Linked DNA regions of Homo sapiens: region 2 is linked to region 1. The links come from fine-mapping of genetic effects on plasma protein levels. A gene starts in region 1. The other region holds a variant in brackets. All regions are shown on one strand. Distances are from middle to middle.

Region 1 (4,504 bases):
AAAAGTAAAAAAAAAAAAACAAAAAATTCAAATACCACCACCCTAAACCATTACCACCATGAATATGTTTTCACACTACATTTTAATTTTAACAAGAAGAACTTTAACATTTAGAAACATTATTTCCTCTTAGATTTTCTTTTCTTAAAAGTTGGGGAAAAAAGAAAACTATAACCAATATTATATATCTCATTATCCCTTACCACTCAGTCATATCTATGCCAAAACTTCTGTTTAGCTATAGGCAATCCTTTCCTTCATATCAGAAATAATTTAATTGAGCGAGGGGTAGGGTGGATATAAGTTCAGTATATGTAGCTTCACTTTTTAAAGGAAATTCTGATATATTCTGAAAAAAAATTGCTAATCGTATTAGTAAGTATATAATGCTGCATCCTCCACGTGTAACAACTTGTTTTCTGTCACATGCAAATTCAGCTGCTTTCCTTCGTTACTCCATTCAACAAATTTATATATTAACAGTACATTCAAAGCATTTAAAACTTCACAGTGCCAGCCGGGCGCGGTGGCTCACGCCTGTAATCCCAGCACTATGGGAGGCCAAGGCGGGCAGATCATCAGGTCAGGAGATCGAGACCATCCTGGCTAACACAGTGAAACCCTGTCTCTACTAAAAATACAAAAAATTAGCCCGGCATGGTGGCACGTGCCTATAATTCCAGCTACTCGAGAGGCTGAGGCAGGGGAATCACTTGAACCCGGGAGGCAGAGGTTGCAGCGAGCTGAGATTGCATCACTACACTCCAGCCTGGGTGACAGAGTGAGACTCCGTCTCAAATAAATAAATAAATAAATAAATAAAACTTCACAGTGCCCAGGACACCTGAGACATTCTTGGTGCTTGTGCTCTTTGAAAGAGCTGAGCAACCTAAAGAATATGACTTATGTCCAACAATTCAGTCTCCTTTATTATACCATCAGATAAAGTGATGTTTTACAAGGAAAATGGAAATATTTTAAAACTCGAGGAGCCCAGCACATCTAAAGGATTTCTGTTTCATGAACTTACGAAAAAGCTGGACAGTCGGAAAAGTCTTACTTGCTTCAAACAAGTCAGACCGTTTTCTCCTGTTACCTATGCTTACAGTCAGATTCCCATTTACCTACAATCTGGCCTTGAGATCCAATATCAAGGCTGGTGGCAGTAAAATGGAGCCAAACACTGTGATTTCTCCCATGTAAATTTGGAATTTGAGAAGTTAGAAAAGTGCTGGCTGCCAGACAAGGTGACTTCCCACTCACCTCCAGCTCAGTGTTCAACATTTTTAAATATCAGCCCCCACCCTCGCCAGGCCACCAACACCAGCCAGGAGCCTTTGAAGACACTTTCCCCCTATGCAATTTGAATGTATAACGTATTTTAAACTACATACCATATGTACTGTATGTACGTCTGTGCGTGATGTATCAAAAGGGTAAAACTTTTTCATCCCTCCACGAACCAATTTTCCCCTGCTGGGGGCGATATCACCCCTGTTGAAAATGCACGTCCTAAACAACAGCTACAAAAACTCAAACTCACATTTAATTGTCTTTTCAAGGCCAGAAGTTCCTAAATCAATAATGATTTAGCACCACTTCAGTCAAAACAATTACATCCGAATCATTTTCAAAATAGAAGCTTAAAATATATATAATCCATGAAATGCATAAAATTGGGCTAAGTATTGTTCCAGCAGTCAGCAACATTCTGGTTAATTTTTTGCATTACTCTCTGTTCGTTAAGCTCTATTTGATGCTTGCTCACAGAACCAAAGATTTGATTAGTGTTGAATTTTACACCTTTCAAGAAGCGAAAAAACCAAACACTCTCTGAGAAAACATTTTTCTGGATGGCAGCAATTGGTAATTTGCAAAAGCAGATAGAAAATGTTCATAGAAAGCACTGCAATTTTCAATTTACCAAACGAATAAACTAACCTCTGCTGCTCACAAAGACCTGAAAATAAATGGCCCACAAAGTTATCAGTCATAAAAACAAATCAATGTTTCATTAAAAAACCACTGTGCCATCTGCATATGCAACCGAGGAGAAACTTCTCCATCCAAAAAGATTCCAGACTGCTCATGTTCTACCATAACTTCAAAAAACAACCAACCCCCACCCCAGCATTTTCAAATACTCATGGCCAGAAGTTTAATAAGACTAAGAAACAGAACAGTCACCAAGAAATGCAGGATATATCCTGTCCAGTCCACTACTAGGATGGTTCTGCATTTTTATATTGTTTCAAAAATAGTGAGGGCAAAGAAAGTCCTCTGTATGAGCCAATAAAAAGAACTTCATCACATTAAAAATTGAGCTCACCTACCTTCACTGGTCCATGTTCATTACTGGAGCCCTGCACCAGCTGGACGTACAACATCATGAAAACATTCACCACTACCCACTCTCTGTACATTTTGAATATTTCAATATCCACTGATTACTAAGCAGTTGACATCAGGCAGCTAGAGAAAATTGTTTCAAAAGGCATTCTCCAGAAGGAAAGTTTGAAACCTCAAAACTTCACACAGAAAACCAAATAATCAGTTCTGATCAAAATCCAATGAAATTATTTCAATTAGGCAAGGTACGCTTTTTTTGCACAATCTTAGGGGTGGGGAGAGAGAGATGAAAAAAATCAAAATGTTCTCCAAAAATAATCAGAAGGTGGACATGTCTTCTACCTGAAATTAGAAAGCACTCTAAATTTACTTCATGTCCAGAAAATTAAAAAAATCTCTCCAATGTATGCCGCAGGTTCTAGTTGCTTTGTAAGGAGGTGGTGTGGCCACCAATGCTTACAGCTACAGAAAGCTGGAACCCAACTCTGGATTGAAACTTTTTTGCACAACCTTCATGGAAGCTTGCAGAAGCATGTGTCTTAAATCTGACACAGATTTTGGCAGAAAATGCAGAGAAGTCTTGGCTGTAATCCTGTTGCGTCCCTACCAATAGCAGGGCAGTTTTAAGAACTGACTCAAATGTTCAGGGCTGCCGTTATTTTAAAGCAGATAACCTGTAACATGAAACCCCAGCACATAGCTTTGACCTTTGTATCTCAGTGGGATTGCTTAAGAAGGGACCTCAGATGCTCATGCATCTGCTGCCAATGACACACAGAAAGCAATCAAATATGATTTTTAAAACCTGCACATGCACAAAAATAATAAAAACATCCATCCATACATGCAAAAAAAGGCAAACATACACAAAACGACTTTTTAAACAGAAGCTTAGTAACTTAGGTATCTCAAATGAAAAACACTGATTTTTAAAGAAACAATGATTAGGTTTATTTGCATGTGCCAGGAAATATCCTACATTTATTGTTACAAAAACCATGTTATCACGTTAGTGTGGAATTCTTTAGAAGCACCGGCTAAATAAGCTTTAGAAATGGAATGCCTTCAATGGCTCAATCTCAGAAATGGCAAAATTCTAGGACACATCAAGACCTGCTCTTCCGCTTTCCACTAGTTCCCAATCTTTGATTTCCAGGTTTTGGCCCTTTCAAACCCATTTTTTGCGTTTCTGAAATCAAGAATAGCTTGAGAAATCTCTTCATTGGTGTTCATCACAAATGGACCTAGGGCAGAAAGAGACATTCAGAAAGTTCTGGGTGGCAATATTTTCCTCTACCACTAGAAATGATATATATTTCTGTAGTTCTTAATTTAAAACAAAATCCAAGCACATCCGAAGAGTAAAAGTTTATTTTCACAGTGTTCAATCCCCAAGGACTGTAAGATGAGTTTCTTGACTAGGATTGTATATGATTATTGATTATAAAGACGAAACTTCAGATAAATGCAATGGCATCTCACCCATTCAGTATAGGTTTCTCACCAGCAATGGTGATCTTTTTTATTAAAAAGAGTCTTAGATTTGGTTCTATTACAACCAATTTTGTAGTTATTTTTATAACATTAGCTGATGTCAAGAATTGAACCCATCTGATACAAAGAACTGACAAATCTTATCATAGCTTTGGTGTCTAAGCAGCATATAAGGCTGTATACTTATTTGAGGATTCTAAGTCATTTTTTGAAAATCAGCAGCACCTATTGACAATAAACAGAAGATTATAAAAATTTCAAGTCGAAGAGCATCATTTTTTAAAAGTTTTCTAGGGGTTGGCAAATGTTTGCTAGGAAGGGCTAGATAGTATGTATTTTAGATTTTGTGGGTCAAACAGTGTCTGTCTCAACTACTCAACTCTTTCATCAAAGTGCAAAAGCAGCCATAGATAATGCAAAAGTGAATAGGTATGGCTGTGTCCCAATAAAACTTCATTTACAAAAACATGCAGTGGGCAGATGTAGCCCATCGACCATAGTTTGCTGACCCTTTTGTCTAATTGCTGGGTCTGAACTCGGATTTTGCTAAAAATGTACAAGAAGTCCTCCCCTAATCTACCAGGAGGCAATGTGTGTTTCTTCCCCTTTCTTCATATATTGTAGGGGCAGAGAGGCACTGGACTGTCTCACCCCCATGATC
Region 2 (4,000 bases), 45 kb after region 1:
TAACCTTAAGCTTGGCACGGATGTGTAGTAACTGTAATTTTCATACACTGCTGGTGGGACTATAACTTGGTATAAACACTTTGGGAAGCTGCTTGGCCATGTGTAGCACAGACGAATATATGCATAATCTATGACCCAATATTCCAACTCATAGGTGTATACCTAACAGTCACCTAAAGACAGGCACAAGTACCTTAATAGTGACAGAACTGATAATAGCCCCAAACTGGAAATCATCCAAATGTCTTTAATAATAGAATGGATAAATGAAATGTAATATACAGTGGAATACTATACACCAAGGAGAATGAATGAACTCAACTACATGCAACAACTCAGGTGAATTTCACAGGCATAATATTGAGCAAATGAAGACAGACACAGAAGATCATACACCGTATGATTCCATTTCTACAAAGTTCAAAACAAGCCAAAATTAATTTATGATGTCAGAAGTCACAAAATTAGTTATCTTGGGAAGGTTAGCAAGTAGAAAAGGATTTTAAAGGGGCTTCTGGGGGCTGGTAATGTTCTGTTTCTTAACCTGGCTGCTGCTTTTATGAGTGTGTTTACTTGGTAAACATTCTTTGAGCTGTATACTTGATCTGTGTACTTCTCTGTGTATATGTTATATGTTAATTAAAAGATTACATTCATTAAATACATGCATTTTTAGACAAAAAGAGAGAATCTGGAGCCCAGAATTATTTACTCTCCTTGATGAAGGCATAATTTTGTGGAGAATAATGATGCAAGCTCCATGAGGACATGAACATTTCTGCCTTTGTTACTACTGAATTCTCAGGGCCAACCCACTATGTCTGTCAAATGCTAGGTGTTCAATAAATATTTATTGAATGATGTTTCATAATGGAAAACTCCATGTATAGTAATACAGTTATTGACAGTAGATATATGTATATATGAAGATATATATGAATATATGTACTGACAGTACATACACACACACACACACACACACACACATATATATACCGTCAATAACTGTATTACTATTCCATATACTGTCAATAACCGTATTACTATACATGGGATTTTATATACATATATACATACATATATACACACACAAGTGTGTGTGTGTGCATATGTGTGTGTATGTATACATATATATATATATGGGGTATTCATCAACATCTTCACCTACATGTAGCAAAATGCTTCTCTTCAGGACAGGTGAATTTGGTATGGTCAAAATATATTGTCTGTACATTAAATTTTGAAATAAAGAATCGTGAGTAATCTTGACTATCAAAAGATTTTTTTCCTTTCCTCTGAATGTCTCCAATTGAAGCTTTGGGGTTTAAAATGCTCTGGTAGACTTTTGCATGGCTTAGAAGGTCAAGCTGCATTAATACAGCTTCAAAGACTAGAAAAGCAAATTCCCCCGTGTATATATAAATGAAACCAGAAAGACCTGTGACATCAAGTGCAACCTGAGGCCAAAGATTCACAATCAATCAGAGAGCTTGAAACACACATAAAAGAAGGGCAGCACACAAGGGGCACAGGATCTGATTCTCTAGGATCATTAGGTGTATAAGACACCATCTGGAAAGGGGCTGGTTTTGTCTGATGAGGACTTCTAAAATTACCTCTAAAAAGATTAAGGGTAAACTTCATATAATATCGAATGACTCCTCTGTTCAGGCAATATTTCGCTGTCCTTCAGATAAAGATCCCTGTTTGGTTTAAGCATCTTTTTCAACCTCTGCCTCAGTGGCAGATGCAGTATCCCTTCCAACAGAGAAGAAATGCATCACAAAGAGGTTCTTGCTTTAATTTTTGCTAGCACTCTCCCAGAATGTGGCCATAAAAATAATCTTGAACTGGAAGTCAGGAGTCTTTCATGCTGTATTGCTTTTTCTTTTCTTCTTTCTTTACCTTTCTTTCTTTCTCTCTGTCTCTCTCTCTCTTTCTTTTTTAAATTTTCTTGTAGAGATGGGATTTCGCCATGTTGCCCAGGCTGGTTTCGGACTCCTGGGCTCAAGCCATCTGCCCGCCTCGGCTTCCCAAAGTGCTGGGATTATAGGTGTGAGCCACCGTGCCCAGCTAGAGGTATTGCTTTTTCTGCTGACCAACGAAACACTTATCTTCTTCTGGGTTAATTCGCTCATCTGAAAATTTTGTGAGGGTACTTGCTGTTGTTTAAGTCTATTTCTGGTTCTGAAATTCTGATTCAGAAAAGTAATGTTTTCCTCCACACTCTAATTTTTAAAATTCTCTTCCAATTTCTCAGACTAGAGCTAAAGAGAAGTGAGAATGTGGCTGGGGTGAGGGAGGGCAACTAGAGCTGTGGAGAGTTGGTGGGAAAGCTCTGGTTAACTCGCTGTATTCTTGCCCTCAACTTCAGTCATCAGTCTGCCCTCCTGGCTGGCTCTTTTTCCTTCTTCCTTCCTGTCTCTTGCTTCTCAACCTAATCCATATTGTTCAAAAAATAGTAGCTACCTCTCTAA[G/GA]TTGCAACTACACAGGCACAAGCACACATGCAGGTGTATTCACACTCACACAGAACGTTCTATATTCATTTATGTATTCATCTTAAAAATTTTAAACAGAAACCAATGAGAGACTTTAATAAAGCCACAAAATATATTCTATCGTCTCACAGTGTGAAAAAGTCTAAGAGGAAATTTTTAATTCATTTTGCAGATGTTTTTCACAACATCTTTAACCTAAAACAGGATTCCAATTCTAGTATTCTTTTCATATTGGGAACTGGATCATTGAGGGTGTCAATATAACATATGTCTTGAATAATAAACTACCCCAAAGCCTTCAAAACTGAATGTATATTATTCTATTTAAAATAATCTATAATGAGGCCGGGCGCGGTGGCTCACGCCTGTAATCCCAGCACTTTGAGAGGCCAAGGTGGGTGGATCACGAGGTCAGATGATAGAGATCATCCTGGCTAACACGGTGAAACCCCGTCTCTATTAAAAATACAAAAAATTAGCCGGGCGTGGCGGTGGTCGTCTGTAGTCCCAGCTACTCGGGAGGCTGAGGCGGTAGAAGGGCGTGAACCCGGGAGGCAGAGCTTGCAGTGAGCCGAGATCCTGCCACTGCACTCCAGCCTGGGCGGAAGAGCGAGACTCTGTCTCAAGGGAAAAAAAAAAAAGGTGATGATGTCAGCCTCAAATGTACCTTGAGCAAACCTGGATTCCATCTTTCCATTACATACCCTGCTGATTTTCAACCATAAAGAAATCTTCCTATTAGGCACATTGTTTCCTGTGTTGTTTTGTTTATTTTTATGTATAGTATTAAACTATTAATAGAACCTCAAAATAGAATGATAATTTAATTAAATCATTCTTTTTTGGTTAAAACTTAGCTATCAATGAATCTATTTCCACAAGAGTCAAACAAATTGGTCCATAAGAAACTAAAAGAAAACATTCCCCTATAAATCCGTTGCAGCATGCACAGAGCTAATGCACTCAAATTCTATTAGTGAATTTGTTTTTTTTTCCTTTTTTTTCTGTTTCAGTTCTGATTAATAATGCCTGCAGAGGTACTAAAATCCAAAGCTCTTCCCCTTTCGTCTTTCTTTCCATTTCACAATCCTGTGTTGAAAGTATTTAGGAAACTTTCCTTTAAAGTTTTAGCCTATATTTCAAAAGCCTAATGGCTTAAAATATTATGGTTCAAATATTATGCAGGGAATATTTCTAGAAGGTAAGTAATTCAATTCTTCATAAGAGATTAAGGGTACATTTTGGCTAACCTACAACAGGGCTGCTACCAAATCCAGGAAAACCTTGTCTCTCCTTCCCTATAAATATGTCAGAACCAAACCCATAATGAGTCTCAGACACCACTCCAATAATGACCACAAAACAACCAAGACAAAACAAGGTCTATAAAACCACTTCCTTCCAAACTCCAACTACCTTCATCTTATGTCCTTCAAAGACTTCCCATTTACCCTGGCTTTTGGTAGGATACCCTTGTCAAGCTGGCTTCCTTCCTCTGCTTT

Direction of the effects. Positions count from the first base shown, and alleles are read on the strand shown. Strength reflects both the effect of a copy and how common the allele is.
With allele GA in place of G in region 2, the plasma level of the protein whose gene starts at base 2,890 in region 1 is higher (strong association).

What was found. A credible set is the group of variants that fine-mapping cannot tell apart. PIP is the posterior inclusion probability: the model's chance that the variant is causal. Protein levels are from antibody-based Olink assays in UK Biobank. Linkage for the fine-mapping came from a reference panel and not from the study's own genotypes, which makes the PIPs less certain.
Region 2: its variant is the best candidate, but not a certain one, in a credible set for the plasma level of the VEGFD protein (UK Biobank, PIP 0.88).

Annotation. Positions count from the first base shown.
Region 1 is chrX:15,381,524-15,386,027 of GRCh38, forward strand. It overlaps VEGFD (vascular endothelial growth factor D), which reads right to left and starts at 2,890. Exons shown (of 7, transcript NM_004469.5): 1 at 2,334-2,890. The coding sequence starts at 2,423. It overlaps PIR (pirin), which reads right to left. Exons shown (of 10, transcript NM_001018109.3): 10 at 3,276-3,593. The coding sequence ends at 3,481. The region is part of intron 9 of PIR-FIGF (PIR-FIGF readthrough); the gene reads right to left.
Region 2 is chrX:15,426,734-15,430,733 of GRCh38, forward strand. The region is part of intron 5 of PIR (pirin); the gene reads right to left. The region is part of intron 4 of PIR-FIGF (PIR-FIGF readthrough); the gene reads right to left. Among named protein-coding and RNA genes, the nearest start is that of VEGFD, 44 kb to the left of the region's middle. The variant G/GA (reference allele first, on the strand shown) is at 2,478.